5 linked regions of the Homo sapiens genome follow. The protein of the gene in region 5 interacts with the protein of the main gene of each other region in a biochemical or structural test. Each region holds a gene or a part of one and is shown on either strand. Other genes may lie near its edges.

Evidence for each region.
Region 1: the proteins of RPA2 (region 5) and RAD51 form a complex in vitro, tested with the Homo sapiens proteins (one study listed by BioGRID).
Region 2: the proteins of RPA2 (region 5) and NUFIP1 form a complex in vitro, tested with the Homo sapiens proteins (one study listed by BioGRID).
Region 3: the proteins of RPA2 (region 5) and HNRNPUL1 form a complex in vitro, tested with the Homo sapiens proteins (one study listed by BioGRID).
Region 4: the proteins of RPA2 (region 5) and ATRIP form a complex in vitro, tested with the Homo sapiens proteins (one study listed by BioGRID).

The regions. Positions count from the first base shown.
Region 1 is NC_000015.10:40,715,665-40,719,184, reverse strand, and holds part of RAD51 (DNA repair protein RAD51 homolog 1), read right to left. Parts: intron 381-3,520; coding exon 286-380; intron 1-285.
Region 2 is NC_000013.11:44,982,956-44,986,475, forward strand, and holds part of NUFIP1 (FMR1-interacting protein NUFIP1), read right to left. Parts: intron 1-3,520. UniProt on the Homo sapiens protein: Binds RNA.
Region 3 is NC_000019.10:41,274,352-41,277,871, reverse strand, and holds part of HNRNPUL1 (heterogeneous nuclear ribonucleoprotein U-like protein 1), read right to left. Parts: intron 1,714-3,520; coding exon 1,574-1,713; intron 1-1,573.
Region 4 is NC_000003.12:48,449,723-48,453,242, reverse strand, and holds part of ATRIP (ATR-interacting protein), read right to left. Parts: intron 3,207-3,520; coding exon 3,073-3,206; intron 2,751-3,072; exon of another isoform or gene 2,668-2,750; intron 1,515-2,667; coding exon 1,344-1,514; intron 1-1,343. UniProt on the Homo sapiens protein: Required for checkpoint signaling after DNA damage. Required for ATR expression, possibly by stabilizing the protein.
Region 5 is NC_000001.11:27,904,569-27,908,088, forward strand, and holds part of RPA2 (replication protein A 32 kDa subunit), read right to left. Parts: intron 2,715-3,520; coding exon 2,613-2,714; intron 2,474-2,612; coding exon 2,360-2,473; intron 1-2,359. UniProt on the Homo sapiens protein: As part of the heterotrimeric replication protein A complex (RPA/RP-A), binds and stabilizes single-stranded DNA intermediates that form during DNA replication or upon DNA stress.

The sequences.
Region 1 (3,520 bases), on a different chromosome or scaffold from region 5:
TAGGAAGGCTGAGGTGGGAGAGTTGCTTGAACCCGGGAGGCAGAGGTTGCAGTGACCTGAGATCACGCCACCGCACTCTAGCCTGGGTGACAAGAGCGAGACTCCATCTGAAGAAAAAAAAAAAAAAGAATGCCTTTTTCTACTAAGGAAGTCATTCTTTTGAACCACACATACAACTTTGGGACGTGGGGTTATAGAAGAGACATTCTTCGGCCAAACTAACCCTGGCAATCACTACATTGATAAGTGTAGCCATAGTCTCTCTTATCTAAACCAGTAACCTACCTCTCAGCCACTGCCAGCAGCCGTTCTGGCCTAAAGGTACCCTCAGTGTCAATGTACATGGCCTTTCCTTCACCTCCACCCCGGTCAATGGGAAGCTATAGAGAACAAAAACAACAGTAGAAATGAACATTGTATTTCTGATACAGCTGACCAAGCTCCTCATGACATCTTTATAATTCCTCCAAGGCAAAGGGAAAAAAACATTTAAAAATGACAGTGGTAGGAAGGAGGCATTCCCTTCTGATATTAATAGAAATACAGCTAGAAAAATATGTAAAGCTGATTGTGTCTCAGTACATACAGCTAGTCCTGTCAGAACTGGACTGCTTAGAAATATAGCCCAAAGTAGGTAATAAAATTCTTTTCTTCTTTTTTTTTTTTTTCTTGCGATAGTCTCACTGTTGCCCAGGCTGGAGTGCAGTGGCGTTATCTCGGTTCACTGCAACCTCCACCTCCTGGGTTCAAGCAACTCTCCTGCCTCAGCCTCCTGAGTTGTTGAGATTAAAGGTCCATGCCACCACGCCCAGCTAATTTTTGTATTTTTAGTAGAAACAGGGTTTCACCAAGTTGGCTAGGCTGGTCTTGAACTCCTGACCTCAGGTGATCTGCCTGCCTTGGCCTCCCAAAGTGTTGGGATTATAGGCACGAGCCACTGCACCTGGCCTTTTTTTGTTTTGGAGACAGGGTCTCACTCCGCCGCCCAGGCTGGAGTGCAGTGGTGCAATCTTGGCTCACTGCAACCTCTGCCTTCCGGGCTCTGGAGATCCTCCCATCTCACCTCCCAAATAGCTGAGACCATAGGTGTGCACCACCACACCCGATTAAATTTTTTTATAGATAGGGTTTTGCCACATTGCCCAGGCTGGTCTTGAACTCCTGGACTCAAGTGATCTGCCCGCCTCGGCCTCTTAAAGTGCTGGGATTACAGGCGTGAGCCACCACACCTGGCCAGTAATAAAATTCTAGAACTGCATACCAACACAAGACTGATCAATTCAAAAGTACAGAAACTTGGAAGACCATTTACCTTAGCTTTAATCAATAATGGGCCATGATCCAAAGCCCAGTTAATTTTAGCATGTCTATATCAAACTTATACTTCACTTTATTGAGCAGTTCATTCTTTAGGGGTACTAAAGGGACTAGTCAATGCCCTCGGAGTGTCTATAGCAAATTTCGAGTGTGAGCAAGAAAGAAGAAAAAAACATATTTACTCCAATAGTATAAACAAGATGTTTAAAATGAACAATTGGAGAAAACAGAAAAATAAGTAGAAAGAATTTTAAAGAGAAAACAAAAAGGAAAGAAAAGAGAAGTAAATGAAATGCCATGAAAACTGTCTTATGAGCCACTCAAGGAAATCTCTGCTTTAGACTACCCATTCCATACCAGATACCTTTGAATTTTTCTACAAAGTTTAAGTGAATGATGCTAAAGGGTAATTTCTACTCTAGAAATCTACTTTGGAGTCATAATTCCCATTTAAATTATGAGGAAAATCCTTTAGAACATTTTATGTTAAAGGCCTAGGAGAACCAAATTTTTTCTTTCTTTTTTTTCTGAGACGGAGTTTCGCTCTTGTTGCCCAGGCTGGAGTGCAATGGCATGATCTTGCCTCACCACAACCTCTGCCTCCCGGGTTCAAGGGATTCTCCTCCCTCAGCCTCCCAAGTAGCTGGGATTTCAGGCATGCACCACCACGCCCGGCTAATTTTGCATTTTTTAGTAAAAATGGGGTTTCTCCACGTTGGTCAGGCTGGTCTTTAACTCCTGACCTAAGGTGATTCACCCACCTTGGCCTCCCAAAGTGCTGGGAGGCGTGAGCCACTGCACCCAGCCCAAATTTTCTTTCTTATCTTTGAGAATTTTTTTTTGAAATTACAAAACAACTATATGCTTATATTAAAAATCTAAACAATATAAAAGTAGAGGGCCGGAGGCCAGGCGCAGTGGCTAACGCCTGTAATCCCAGCACTTTGGGAGGCCGAAGCAGGTGGATCACCTGAGGTCAGGAGACCGAGACCATCCTGGCTAACATGGTAAAACCTTGTCTCTACTAAAAATACAAAAAATTAGCCGGGCGTGGTGGCGGCCACCTGTAGTCCCAACTACTTGGGAGGCTGAGGCAGGAGAATGGCGTGAACCTGGGAGGCAGAGCTTGCAGTGAGCCGAGATCGTGCCACTACACTCCAGCCTGGGTGACAGAGCGAGATTCCATCTCAAAAAAAAAAAAAAAAAAAAAGAAGTAGAGAGGCCAGGCATGGGGGCTCACACCTGTAATCCCAGCGAGTGGATCACCTGAGGTCAGGAGTTCGAGACCAGCCTGGCCAAAATGGTGAAACCCTGTCTCTACTAAAAATACAAAAATTAGTGGGGCGTGGTGGTGCACACCTGTAATCCCAGCTACTCGGGAGGCTGGGGCACAAGAATCACTTGAACCTGGGAGGCGGAGGGTGCAGTGAGCGATATCATGCCACTGCACTCCAGTTTGGGTGACAGAGTGAGACTTTGTCTAAAAAAAAAAAGAGGAAGTGGCGGAGAAAAAACTGAAAGCTCTTCACCACTCTCCATCTCCCAGAAATAATTTCCCAGATTATTTTCTATGCATTTTCATATACTTCTTTTATATAAGTGGTTCTTCCACTTACTATGTGACTGAGAATATTGTTTCCTTTTCTGTAAAATGTAAATAAAACCGACCTTATGGGATTGTTTTAAAAACTAAATAAAATAATTCATGTAAAGCGTTTAGCACGGTACACTCTGAAGACATGATTTTCCCAACCTTTAGGGCACTGACTTTAGTGTATACAGTTACGGAAGGCTTTGTTAATTTGGAAGGGAAAAATTACGTTACTATTTGGCAGATAAAATCTCTCACATCATGGGAATCCATGGAAGGAGCAAAGGACACATATACAACAAAAGAGGGTCATGCCTAAAGAAAGACTTGGAACCAGTGGCCAAGAGGACAGAGAGCAGAATCTGCCTCAGTTTCTTGGAGAGGAGGAAATATTAACACTCTGGGGACTAAGTCCCCAGGAAATAAGATGAACGAAGTTCTCCTTTCTCCTACCTCCAGGTAATATTAAGTGCTAACATGACAGGGGATTCTTTTCCAATTGAATAGACTTCCTTGGCAAAGGAAAGGCCACAGATGATTGGGAATAGGTAGGTAGACTGACAACAGGATAGTGGACAAGCTCCCAGGGTAAGATCATGGGGATGGATTGCA
Region 2 (3,520 bases), on a different chromosome or scaffold from region 5:
TATGATCATGCCACTACACTCCAGTCTAGGCAACAGCACAAGACCCTGTCTCTGTCTCTTTTAAAAAAATTATTCTTTGTATAGAGATGGGGTCTCACTATGTTGCCCAGGCTGATCTCACACTCCTGGGCTCAACCGATCTGCCTGCCTCAGCCTCCAAAGTCCTGGGACTGCAAGCGTGAGCCACCATGCCCAGCTGACCCTGTCTCTTATTTTATTTTATTTTTTTTGGCGGGGGAGATGCAGTTTCGCTCTTGTTGGCCAGCCTAGAGTGCAGTGGCACAATCTTGGCTCACTGCAACCTCTGCTTCCCAGGTTCAAGCGATTCTCCTGCCTCAGCCTCCCGAGTAGCTGGGATTACAGGCATGTGCCACCATGCTCAGGTAATTTTCGTATTTTTTAGTAGAGACAGAGTTTCACCATGTTGGCCAGGCTGGTCTCGAACTCCTGACCTCAAGTGATCCACCTGCCTCGGCCTCCCAAAGTGCTGGGATTACAGGCGTGAGCCACCGCACCCAGCCCCCCGTCTCAAATAAAAAAAAAAAAAAAGTTGAGGGAGGGGCTGGCATGATGGCTCACATCTATAATTCCAACACTTTGGGAGGCCAAGGCGGGCAGACCACTTGAGCCCAAGAGTTTGAGATCAGCCTGAGCAGCCTGGCGAAACTCTGTCTCTACAAAAAATACAAAAATTAGCCAAGCTTGGTGGTATGTGCCTGTAGTCCCAGCTACTTGTGAGGCTGAGATGGGAGAATCACTTGAGCCCAGCAGGTTGAGGCTGCAGTGAGCCATATATGTGCCACTGCACTCCAGCCTGGGCCACAGAACAAGACCCTGTCTCAAAAAGCAACAATAATAAAGGATGAGTTTGACCTTCTCTCACTCTCTCTCACCATGTGATGCCTTTCTTGATGTCACCATGCAGCAAGAAGGTCCTCAACAGCCCCTTGATCTTGGACATAACCTCAAGAACTATGAGCCAAATAAATTTCTGTTCATTATATATTACCCAACAGGTCATACTCTGTTATGGCAGCACAATAGGGACTAAGACAGCTTCCTAGAGACCTTCCATGAGATTCTAATTTATTTTCTTACCCTACCCTTCCCCATACCTTTCACATACTCTGCTTCAGTCACACCAGAACCCTGCAATCTCCAGAACTTGCCTTGTACTGACACCTCTTTCTCTACCTAGGAAACATCTCTTCCCAAATTCTATACATCTCCTAAGACACTTCTTCCAAAAGCTTTTCCCAATTTCCTCTACATTCTGAAATCAGCTATTATATGCCTCTATCATCAGTCACACTGTATTTTGATTCATACTTATAACATATCTCATCTGACTCAGCCAAGTCCGTATTTCCAGCATCTGCCATACAATAAACACTAACTGTTTGGGCCAGGTGTGATGGCTCATTCCTGTATTCCCAGTGCTTTGGGAGGCCAAGGCAAGCAGATCACTTGAGGTCAGGAGCTCGAGACCAGCCTGGCCAACATGGTGAAACCCAGTCTCTACCAAAAATACAAAAAATTAGCCAGGTGTGGTAGTGCGTGCCTGTAGTCCCAGCTACTCAGGAGGCTGAGGCAGAAGGATCCCTTGAACCCAGGAGGTGGAGGCTGCAGTGAGCCGAGATGGTGCCACTGTACTCTAGCCTGGGTGACAGCAAGAGACTCTATTTAAAAAAATAAATAAAATAAAATAAAAATAAAACACTAATTGTTCAGATTCAGTTTAATGCAGAATTGAATTTTTTTTTATTATTATACTTTAAGTTTTAGGGTACGTGTGCACAATGTGCAGGTTAGTTACATATGTATACATGTGCCATACTGGTGTGCTGCACCCATTAACTCGTCATTTAGCATTAGGTATATCTCCTAATGCTATACCTCCCCGTTCCCCCCACCCCACAACAGTCCCCAGAGTGTGATGTTCTCCTTCCTGTGTCCATGTGTTCTCATTGTTCAATTCCCATCTATGAGAGAGAACATGTGGTGTTTGGTTTTCTGTCCTTGCAATAGTTTACTGAGAATGATGACTTCCAATTTCATCCATGTCCCTACAAAGGATATGAACTCATCATTTTTTATGGAATGCAGAATTGAATTTTCTGCAAAGTTGGAGAATGGTTTTAAATTAACACTCTTGTAGCTTGAAATATGATCTATATGGTGTCAACACCCAAATTTATAGCTCCAGCCACAAATCTCCCCTGAAAGTAGACTAATAGCTAAAAGCCTATTCAATATCTCTACCTGACACAAATATATTCCAACTTTAATTCCTGGACTTCCTTCCAAATCTGCTCCATCCACATTCTTACCTATCTCAGTTAATAGCAACTCCATCCTTCCAATTGTTTGGCAAAAAAACTTTAAATTATCCTTCTCTCCTCTTTATCTTGCATCCCATATATCCTATCTTTCAGTAAATCATGCAGTCCCCACCTTTAAGGTATAAAAGCACATCTCATTTCACTGCACTTCGTTTTACACAGCTTTTTGCAAGCTAAGGGTCTGCGGCAACCCTACATCAAGCAGGTCTATCAGCACCATTTTTCCAACAACAATGTGCTGTCTTTGTGTCACATTTTGGTGATTCTCGAAATATTTCAAACTTTTTCATTTTTATTACGTCTGTTATACTGATCTGTGATCAGTGATCTTTGATGCTACTACTGTAATTGTTTTGAGACACCATGAATCGTGGCCATATAAGATGGTGAACTTTATAAATGCTGTGTATGTTCTAACTGCTCTACCAACCGGTGGTTCTCCTCTCCCTCTCCTCAGGCCTCCCTATCCTCTGAGACGCAATATTCAAAAGTAGGCCAATTAATAACCCTATCATGGTCTCTAAGTGTTCAAGCAAAAGGAAGAGTCACATGTCTCTCATTTTAAATCGAAAGCCAGAAATGATTAAGCTTAGTGAGGAAGACACGTTGAAAGCTGATACAAGCCAAAAGCCAGGCCTCTTGTGCCAAACGGCTAGCCAAGTTGTGAATGCAACTACTGAGAAAGGGTCTCACTGTCAGCCAGGCTGGAATATAAAGGTGCAGTCATAGCTCATTGCAGCCTCAAACTCCTGGGCTCAAGGGATCCTCCTGCTCTGCCCTCCTGAAGTGCTGGGATTACAGTCGTGAGCCACCGTGTCTGGATGAAAAGTTCTTGAAAGAAATCCACAGTGATTCATAGATAGTGATTCCTCTAATGGATCTGAGCAAAGTAGATTAAAAACCTTCTAGAAAGGAGGTTTTGATTCACTATTCAAGATACCATTAAGAACATTCATGATTTATGGAAGGAGGTCAAAAGATCAACATTAACAGGAGTTTGAAAGAAGAAATTCCAACCCTCATAGACGATTTTGAGGAATTCAAGACTTCAGTGGAGGAAGTCACCTCAGATGTAGTAGAAACTGCAAGAGAACTACAATTAGAAGTGGAGGGGCCAGGCGCAGTGGCTCACGCCTATAATCCCAACACTTTGGGAGGCTGAGGTGGGTGGATCACGA
Region 3 (3,520 bases), on a different chromosome or scaffold from region 5:
CACATTTTAAAATCTCTGAAATCAGGATCCATTTTACAATAAATGTGATGAGAAAGCACTGCGTATGCTGGGTGCGGCAGCTCACGCCTGTAATCCCAGCACTTTGGGAGGCCAAGGCAGGCAGATCACCTGAGCTCAGGAGTTCAAGCCCAGCCTGATCAACATGGAGAAACCCCATCTCTACTAAAAATACAAAAATTAGCCGGGCAGGGTGGCACATGCCTGTAATCCCAGCTACTGGGGAGGCTGAGGCAGGATAATTGCTTGAACCCGGGAGGCAGAGGTTGCAGTGAGCCGAGATCGCGCCACTGCACTCCAGCCTGGACAACAAGAGTGAAACTCCATCTCAAAAACAAAAAAACAAACAAACAAAAAAAGAAAACACTGCGTAGTTTATTTTGTTGCAGTGTTTCTCTATGAGAGGTACATAAAATAATGCACAACTTACATCAATGGTGTCGTGGTCAATAAAATATAACCCTCTGTGTTTCAGCTTCTACCTCTAAAAACTGGGGCTAACAGTACCTGTTTCCAGATGGTACTGTGAGGATTAATGGAGATAATCCATGTAAAGAGCTTGGTGCTGTATCTTGTGCATGCAAAGAGCTCTATACTTATTAGCTATCATCAGTAAGTTTGGATACACAAACCACAGGTAAGAAATTGTTAACACAGAAGTTCCCTCCAGGGAGTAGGATGGTAGGATGGGAACTGAGAGGACATGAGAATAACCTGTTTTGTTTTTTTTGTTTTTGTTTTTTTGTTTTTTTTTTTTGAGACAGAGTCTCACTCTGTCACCCAGGCTGGAGTGCAGTGGCGTGATCTCGGCTCACTGCAACCTCTGCCTCTTGGGTTCAAGCAATTCTCTGCCTCAGCCTCCTGAATAGCTAGGATTGCAGGCACCCGCCACCATGCCCGGCTAATTTTTTTGTATTTTTAGTAGACAGGGTTTCACCATCTTGGCCAGTTTGGTATTGAACTCCTGACCTTGTGATCCACCTGCCTTGGCCTCCCAAAAGTGCTGGGATTACAGGCAAAAGCCACCACACCTGGCGAGAATAACCTGTTTTATCCTGTACTTTTCTGTGCTGTCTGAACTTTTGTTAAACATGAGCATCTATTATTTTCATAAACATAACTTGACATGGAACTGTGGAGAGATGACAGCAGAGGCTGGCCTAAGCTGGCAGTTCTTTGCCCTGTTCTCCCTCTGGCCTCCCTTTAATAAGTGACATCTGAGTCTATTCTTTCTAGATCACTTTTCTTCCAAACAACTTCTTTTCTCAGTTCTACAAACATGTCATCACTACACTGGTTGACTACATAATACCTGGGTCAAATCTCACCAAGGAAATATCTGCTTGATGAAGCAATGCATGGTTGGCCTGCTTTTCTGATATGATATTTAGCAATGATGTAGTTGTCTTGAGTTCATCACAGTTTTGTCTGCTTGGACATGGTATTGCACAATCCAATCTCTTTTGCAGTTGCAGCTCTGACCAAGGTGGCTGGTATCAGGATATTACAATGGATGGACTTCTCTGTCCCTTCCCCTTCTCTTGCTCCTACTCACCTTCATCTCGAAGCATACACGGCCCCTTCTGACCCCATAGCTGGCACGGGCTCCTGACCACAGGTATGCAAAGCCCTCAATTGTGAGCGGATAGCCACTACTCCGATCTCGGGCCACCTTGAAGTGGAGGTCGCAGTTATCTGTGAAGGAAAATGCCCACAGTTGGCTGATGTTTTTATTTTGTTTTGTTTTCTTGAGACGGAGTTTCACTCTTTTTGCCCAGGCTGGAGTGCAATGGTGCGATCTTGGCTCACCGCAACCTCCGCCTCCCGGGTTCAAGTGATTCTCTTGCCTCAGCTTCCTGAGTAGCTGGGATTACAGGCATGCACCACCACACCTGACTAATTTTGTATTTTTTAGTAGAGATAGGGTTTCTCCATGTTGGCCAGGCTGGTCTCGAACTCCCGACCTCAGGTGATCCACCTGCCTCGGCCTCCCAAACTGCTGGGATTACAGGCGTGAGCCACCACGCCCGGCCTGGCTGATGTTTTAGAAGTCCTAAGAAAGAAGCAGGCAGAGGGAACTTCCCCAAGTGCTGACCAGGAGTACACAGTGAACACATCATGGGGGCAGTTTCAAAAGGAACCAGCACACCCCTCAACCTCTCTCCCTTTGAGTAGGGAGGATGTGCAGTATTGCAAATTGGCCTGTATGACCTCAGAGAGGAACTGGGGTTCTTTATCTGGTGGGATCCAAGGATGGGGCTTCAGGGGTATCCTCAGAAATTGTCAACACATGTCTTTGGTGGGGATGTGTATTTGCTAGGGATAGGGTCCATATCCTCAGCAGTTTCAAATTAATTTTTTTTTTTGAGACAAGGTCTCGCTTTGTCACCCAGGCTGGAGTACGGAGGCATGATCTCGGCTCACTGCAACTTCTGTTCTCCTGCGCTTAAGCCATCCTCCCACCGCAGCCTCCTGAACAGCTGGGACTACAGGGATATGCCACCATGCCAGGGTGATTTTTATATTTTTCGTAGACAGGGTTTCGCCATGTTACCCAGGCTCAAACTAGTTTTTAGAATACAAAAAGGTTAATCACCACCACCATATATTCCTACCGCCCTCTGTGGTAATTCTATCAATTTGGGAACCGGACTTCTGTTTCCAATAGCTATACAGGGATCTGACCCTGATCCACACCTGCCACCCAGGAACCAATGCCCAGGTGCCCCATAGGCTCCTAATTCCTTTCATGGGCCTAGGACTCTCCTACTGTTGCTCTTACCCTTCTCAATATTCTCAATATTCAAGGAGCCAGTCACGCCTCCAAGAAAGCCTTTCCTGACCATCCCTCCCATGAGGCGCTCTCCTTTCTCTAAAGGCTGACCGTCATGATCTGTACATTTGCATTTCATCTAGACGCTGCCTCATGAACCACTGCCACCCAACACTTTTTAAACAATGTTTACCTCTACTCTGGGTAGATGTTGTTTTCGAGAGCTTGTGATATTAGAGATTGTGTATATTTTTATCTCTTACTAAAGCATGTAGCCAGTGCTTTATAAACAGAAGCTTCTGTAGAAATAGATGAATAAATTGCTGCTTATCTTCTGCTCTGTTGAGAAGTGCAGTGTTCTCAGACCTGATTGGGCTTCTGGGTGCATGTAAAAATTTAGATTCATAGGCTCGACCACTTAGACTCTTGACTAGGAGGTCTGAGCGAAAGGACCTTTATAATAATTCCTCCAAATGCTCAGATGCACAGTGAAGGTGAAAGCCACTTATCCAGTGGAAAGAAAACTGAACTGGAGGACAGACAGCAGGGCGGGCCAGGTTAGTGCCTCACAGGACACAGTGGCATTGGTTTCACCAGGAACTTGAGCAGCTGATGGAAACGGGAACTGGTTGTCAAAGAGTTAAGTTTCCCCAGCTGCACTCAGATTCCCTTCCTGATTAGATGACAACCCCTGTGTGTACAGGGCGGTTCAGGGTTTTCCAGATTGCT
Region 4 (3,520 bases), on a different chromosome or scaffold from region 5:
GGTACTGGATACCTACTGTTTTTCCTTCCAGAATAGCATTTTCCTTTCCCTGAGAAACAGGCTGGGCATTGTGGCTCACGCCTGTAATCTCAGCACTTTGGAAGGCCAAGGTGGGAGGACTGCATGAGCCCAGGAGCTTGAGAACGGCTTGGAGAATACAGCAAAACCCTGTCTGTACCAAAATTTAAAAATTAGCTTTGCCTGGTGGTGTGTGCCTATAGTTCCAGCTACCTGGGAGGCTGAGATGGGAGGATTGCTTGAGCCTGGGAGGTCAAGGCTGCAGTGAGCTGTGATTGCACCACTGCACTCCAGCCTGGGCAAGAGAGTGAAACCCTGGACCCTGTCTCAAAAAAAAAAAAAAAAAAAAAAAAATTCAATAATTTCCCTACCTCTGACTATTTTATTAGAATGGGAGCTGTCATTTTTTTGCTTTTGGTTGCTTTTGGTTATAGCAATTGGCCAGGGACAGACAACTGACTCAAGTTAAACCAATCAGAGCCTTTCTCAGAATTTTAAAACTTGAGATGAGGGAGCCTAAGTCTTTTTTTGAAACAGGGTCTCGCTCTATTGCCCAGGCTGGAGTACAATGGCATGATCATGGCTTACTGCAGCCTCAACCTCCTGGGCTCAAGCAATTCTCCCACCTCAGCCTCCTGAGTAGCTGGGACTACAGGTGCACACCACCATGCCTGGATAATTTTGTTCATTTTTTCTTTTTCTTTTTTGTGGAGATGAGGTCTCACTAGTTGCCCAGGCTGGTCTCGAACTCCTGGCTCAAGTAATCCTCTCACCTCAGCCTCCCAAAGTGCTGGATTATAGGTGTGAGCCACTGCATGTGGCCCTAAGTCTTAATTCTGCTCTGTATTTATAAAATATGAGCCCAGGAGCTTCTGGAGAACACACCCTCTACCATAAGTATAGAGCCTGTTTATAGCATAGAGAATAAAAATGTCCTGGCAAGATTTAAGTCATTTAAGGTCCCAGCATACCCCGGTTCTTCCCAGACTTGGATATGGAAGCCAATACGTTTCCTTTTAGCCTAAGCCAGGTCAGTTGAGTTTCTGATCTAGCAAAAGAGCCTTAATGTAAACCTGTTTCTAGAAATGCTAAGCTAGTTATTTACTCCTGCCAAGACCAACTACCACAGCAAAATAGAGTTTCATCTAAATCCCTTTCCAAAATATATCCAGACCCTGGAAGAAGAGTGGATGGCAATGAGATGATAGCAGAAAGTATTTAAGACAAACAAGTGTTGAAATCTCCCTGGAAGATTTACAGGCAACCCTGGTCAAAGGAACTCAGTGGGCAGGCAAAGCTGGTGCAAAACAAATGCTCTGGGTCACCTTTTTGGAGAATTCCTTTTCCTTGTCACTGAGTGCTTGGGTTTTCTCTTGCTCAAGAAGAAAATGTGATCTTCTCTGTTCCTCTAGAACGGATTCCGTCTGATGTAGTGAGTCTCGCAAAATTTTAATTTCTCCATTCTTAATGAGAACTTCTTCTTCCATTACTTTCATCTGTAAATCCCAAATTAATCTCGTGAAAACTTTGTAAGAGAAAACTACTTAGGTACTTTGTTTTAACATGTAGTTGGGGAGATGGAGAAAGCACAGGAAAAACAGACAAATGAGTACTCAAAATATATCCACAGCAACCAGATGTCACCATGGTCTGCTAGGCCTGTTCATGGGACAGCTGATATTCATCAAGATAGCTTAAGCATACACTTGCCACTCATGCATGCAGATTCTTTTTGCCAGGGAGGGGGATGGGGTTGCTTAGGCTGGAATGCTGTGGCACAATCATAGCTCAATGTAACCTTGAACTCCTGGGCTCAAGTGATCCTCTCGCCTCAACCTCTTGAGTAGCTAGGACTACAAAGCATGTGCCACTAGCCTGGCCAATTTTCACTTTTATCTGTAGAGACAGGGTCTCATTGTATTGCCCAGGCTGGTCTTGAACTCTTGGGTTCAAGCGATTCTCTCACCTTGGCCTCCCAAAGTGCTGGGATTACAGGCATGAGCCACCTTGCCTGACCAGATTCCTTTTTTTTTTTGAGACGGAGTCTTGCTATTGTCGCCTAGGCTGGAGTGCAATGGCACGATCTCGGCTCACTGCAACCTTCACCTCCCAGGTTCCAGCAATTCTCCTGCCTCAGCCTCCCGAGTAGCTGAGATTACAGGTGCCCGCCACCATGCCTAGCTAATTTTTGTATTTTTAGTAGAGACGGGTTTTCACCATGTTGGCCAGGCTGGTCTTGAACTCCTGACCTCAGGTGATCCACTGGCCTCGGCCTACCAAAGTGCTGGGATTACAGGTGTGAGCCACCGCGCCTGGCCGGATTCTTTAGGCTCTAAGAGGCATTAACGATCTGGGTCGCTGGGTGTGGTAGCTCATGCCTGTAATCCCAACACTTTGGGAGGCTGAGGCCAGGAGTTTGAGACCAGCCTGGCCAACATGGTGAAACTCCGTCTCTACTAAAAATACAAGAATTAGCTGGGCGTCGTGGTGCACACCTGTAGTCCCAGCTACTCTGGAAGCTAAGGCATGTGAATCGCTTAAAACCAGGAGGCAGAGGTTGAAGTGAGCCAAGATTGTGTCACTGTACTCCAGCCTGGATGACAGACTCCATCTCCAAAAAAAAAAAAAAAAAAAATCTGGGTCACATACCTTGCACAACTAAAATTCCACATATTCCTGGTTTTCTTAGGGACCTACAGATGGTGATATGAAGTGTCTGCTTTCTTGCAAAGCTGCTAATGAAAATAGCAACCATTATGAAGTTGTATTATTCACATGAAGATACATGCTATAAATTCATCTTAGTACCCTAACAGTTTGTATCTCTTTTTGGATCTGGTATACAGTGTTTTTCTTCTTGCCTTTGGCATTAGGAATCTCACAATTTAGTTTCTTTCAGCCTAAACTTTCTGGTTTTCTTTCCCTAGTCTTTTCCCATGTCATAGGGATGAATCTAGACACTTGTTTTACAACTTTTGTATATTTTACTGTACAATGCTTTTAAACACGTAAGTGAATGAATTAGCTACAAAAACCACAAGTTAAGTCACTTACCTTTTCTTTAAGTTCTTTGTATTGTGCCTGAAGTACCTCTAATTCGAAATTATCTTTAATTGGAACAGTTTCTCTGTTTTTCCCTGAAGGATTTTTTGACATGCCATCTAATAATCTGTGGACCTTATGATCACCTGTAAAAAATAGTTCCATATACATTTCAGGACCCAATATTTTCCCACTTTTGCCAGAAAATGCTGAAAATACCCACTTTTTTTTTTTTTTTCTTTTTTGAGATAGGGTCTTGCTCTGTTACCCAGGTTGGAGTGCAGTGGTGTGATCACTGCTTACTGCCACCTTGACCTCCTGGGTTCAAGTGATCCTCCTGCCTTAGCCTCCTGTGTAGCTGGGACTACAGGTGTGTGCCACCATGCCTGGCTTTTTTTTTTTTTTTTTTTTTGGATTTTAGTAGAGATGGCGTTTCACCATGTTAGCCAGGCTGGTCTTG
Region 5 (3,520 bases):
TGAGAAGGAAAAAATTTAAAAATTACATAACTACCAAGTTATTTCTCTATAGATAACTTGTGGTTTTTGAAGGAGAACCGCATTTTTTTTTTTGAGTCAGTCTTGCTCTGTTGCCCAGAGCAACAGAGCAGTGCGCAATCTGCTGGAGTGCAGTGGCGCAATCTTGGCTCACTGCAACCTCTGTCTCCTAGGTTCAATCAATTTTTCTGTCTCAGCTTCTGGGTAGCTGGGATTACAGGCACCCAGCTCATTTTTGTATCATTAGTAGAGATGGAGTTTCATCACGTTGGCCAGGCTGGTTTCAAACTTCTGACTTCAGGTGACCCGCCAGCATTGGCCTCCCAAAGTGCTGGGATTACGGGCGTGAGTCACCATGCCCAGCCTAAAACAGTCTTTATTATCCAAATTTTCTGTAATGAATGTATTTCAAAAACAAAATACAAAACACCAAGAGGCCTTCTGCACAATTGAAAAATAAAAGGATAAAAAGTATATACTGTATTTCAGTCTATTTTATCCATGTTTATAAAGACACTTATATATATGCTGCTTTGTAAAAATTGGGTCAAATCCTGCATACCACATTGTAATATGCTTTTCTCAACAATTTATGGCAAACACTTCTTTGTGGCAATACACGCTTTTCTGTATCATTTGTAGTATGTTATAAATGTGTCATGGTTTACTTAATAATCCTTTATTGCTAGTATTTTGAGATTGCTTTATTTTTATTTATTCATTTTGAGACAGAGTCTTGCTCTGTCGCCCAGGCTGGAGTGCAGTGGCATGATCTCGGCTCACTGCAACCTCTGCCTCCCAGGTTCAAGCAATTCTCCTGCCTCAGCCTCCTGAGTAGCTGGGATTATAGGTGCGCAGAACCACGCCCGGCTAATTTTTGTATTTTTAGGAGACGGAGTTTCACCTGTTGGCCAGGCTGGATTCGAACTCCTGACCTCAGGTGATCTGCCTGCCTTGGCTTCCTAAAGTGTTGCGATTACAGGCGTGAGCCACTTCACTGGCCTAAATCTTTGTACCTGTCTTTAATTCTTTCCTTGATGTAAACTCCTAAGCTGTGGAGTTCTGCTAGGTCACCACTGTTTGTCTTTTTTTGTTTTGAGGCGCAATCTTGGCTCACTGCAAGCTCCGCCTCCCAGCTTCATGCCATTCTCCTGCCTCAGCCTCCCGAGGAGCTGGGACTACAGGCGCCTGCCACCACACCCGGCTAATGTTTTGTATTTTTAGTAGAGACAGGGTTTTACCGTGTTAGCCAGGATGGTCTTGATCTCCTGACCTCGTGATCCGCCCACCTCGGCCTCCCAAAGTGCTGGGATTACAGGCGTGAGCCACCATGCCAAGCCAAAAAGGAGCTTTATATTAATTAAAAATTTAAATGTTTGTAATATGTTGCAAATATTTTCCACATTCATTTAAACAATACTTATTCCAGGACCACTATGTGACTAGCACTGCTCTAGGTGCTAAGGCTACAGCGGTGACCAAGATAAAAATCTTTGTTCTAGGCCGGGCGTGAGGGCTCATGCCTGTAATCCAATCACTTTGAGAGGCTGAGGAGGGTGGATCACCTGAGGTCAGGAGTTTGAGACTAGCCTGGCCAACATGGCAAAACCCCATCTCTACTAAAAATACAAAAAATTAGGTGTGGTGGCGGGTGCCTGTAATCCCAGCTACTTGGGAGGCTGAGGCAGGAGAACTGCTTGAACCTGGGGCCCAGAGGCTGCAATGAGCTGAGATTGCGCCATTGCACTCCAGCCTGGGTGACAGCACAAGATTCTGTCTCAAAAAAAAAAACCAAACAAACAAACAAACAAAAAAGCAGGGGCTGGGTGTGGTGGCTCAAGCCTGTAATAATCCCAGCACTTTGGGAGGCCAAGGTAGGTGGATCACAAGGTCAGGAGTTCAAGACCAGCCTGACCAAGATGGTGAAACCCCATCTCTAGTAAAAATACAAAAATTAGCCGGGCGTGGTGGCAGGTGCCTGTAATCCCAGCTACTTGGGAGGCTGAGGCACAGGATCGCTTGAGCCCGGGATGCGGACGTTGTAGTGAGCCGAGATTCCACCACTGCACTGCCTGGGCGACAGAGTGAGACTCTGTCTCAAAAAAAACTTTGTTCTAATGGAACTTAACATTCTACTGTCTCCTGTCATTTGACTTTTAATTCTGTTTTTGGTATATTGGGAAGGTATATAGTCAAATCTACTAACCTTTTACTTTAGAGTATCTGTCTTTGATGTCTTTTTGTATTATTTTTATAAGAAAAAACTTTAAAAAGACTAAAAAAGTTCAACATCTCCACAGTTCCAAAGTAACCCCATCATGATTCAAAAACAGCCACTTACATCTGTGTCAACCCACTGGCGAACGTCCATGGGTGCAGCTGTCATGTCATCTATTTTGTAAACAATGTTGGTTGGAGCCTTCTCTGCATGTCTGATGATCCCCACAATAGTGACCTAGGTTAGAAGAAACAAAGAAAAAAAAAAAAGGTCTGGTTCCCCCTGAAACCAAGGCTACATTTTTGTATTTTTTAATGAAGTCTTATTTCATTCTTTATTATGAGTAAGTGATTCTTTCACAAATTATTTGACATACCTGTGAAATCTCAACATTCCCAATTCTGAACACTTCATCAACCAAAGTGGCAGAAAGCAGCTGAGATATAGTACAGGGCACAATGTGCTGGGCTCGGGCTCTCTGAAAAGAAAAAACATGCAAAATTCAATTAAGAAAGTAATAACTACCACTCATTCAACACCTGCCATGTGCCAAGTACTTTAAATATATTAGAACATTGAATTTCAAAACAAATCTCATTATCCTTGCTTCAGAGAGATGGAAACCAAGGTCATATAGCAAACCAATACCACACTTTTAGAATCCAAACCCAGGTTTGTCTAACTCCAGAGCTCCTGCTGAATAGATACACATGTTGCTCTGAGAATTCACCAAAATGAATAGGTCAGAGTGGGGGACAGGATAAGGAAGAATGACCTGCTGCTGCCAGAACAGACCTTCAAGAGGAAACCCCAGCTTTAGGGTGTAGACAGGCTGGTGCTGCTGTTCAGGTCACTGACAAAATGAGATGGTATTGGGAAAAGGTTTGAGAAATGACTAATGGAGACAGGACTTTGGAATTGCTTGTAGGTCTTGTGATGAACTGTAAAAGGTAGAAGAATAGCTTCTTGTAGGACAGATTTTTTGACTATCAAATGGAGCTCCTGGGGAAATGGAGTAAGAGCTTGGCCATGTTGGACATCTTTTTAAATTTTTTTTCTTTGAGACAGAGTTTCGCTCCTGTTGTCCAGGCTGGCATGCAATGGCGTGATCTCAGCTCACTGCAACCTCCGTCTCCCGGGCTCAAGCGATTCTCCTGGCTCAGCCTCCTGAGTAGCTGGGACTATATGTGCCAGCATTTTGCATTTTTAGTAGAGATGGGGTTTCACCATGTTGGCCAGGCTGGTCTGGAACTCTTGACCTCAGGTGATCTGCCCACCTCAGCC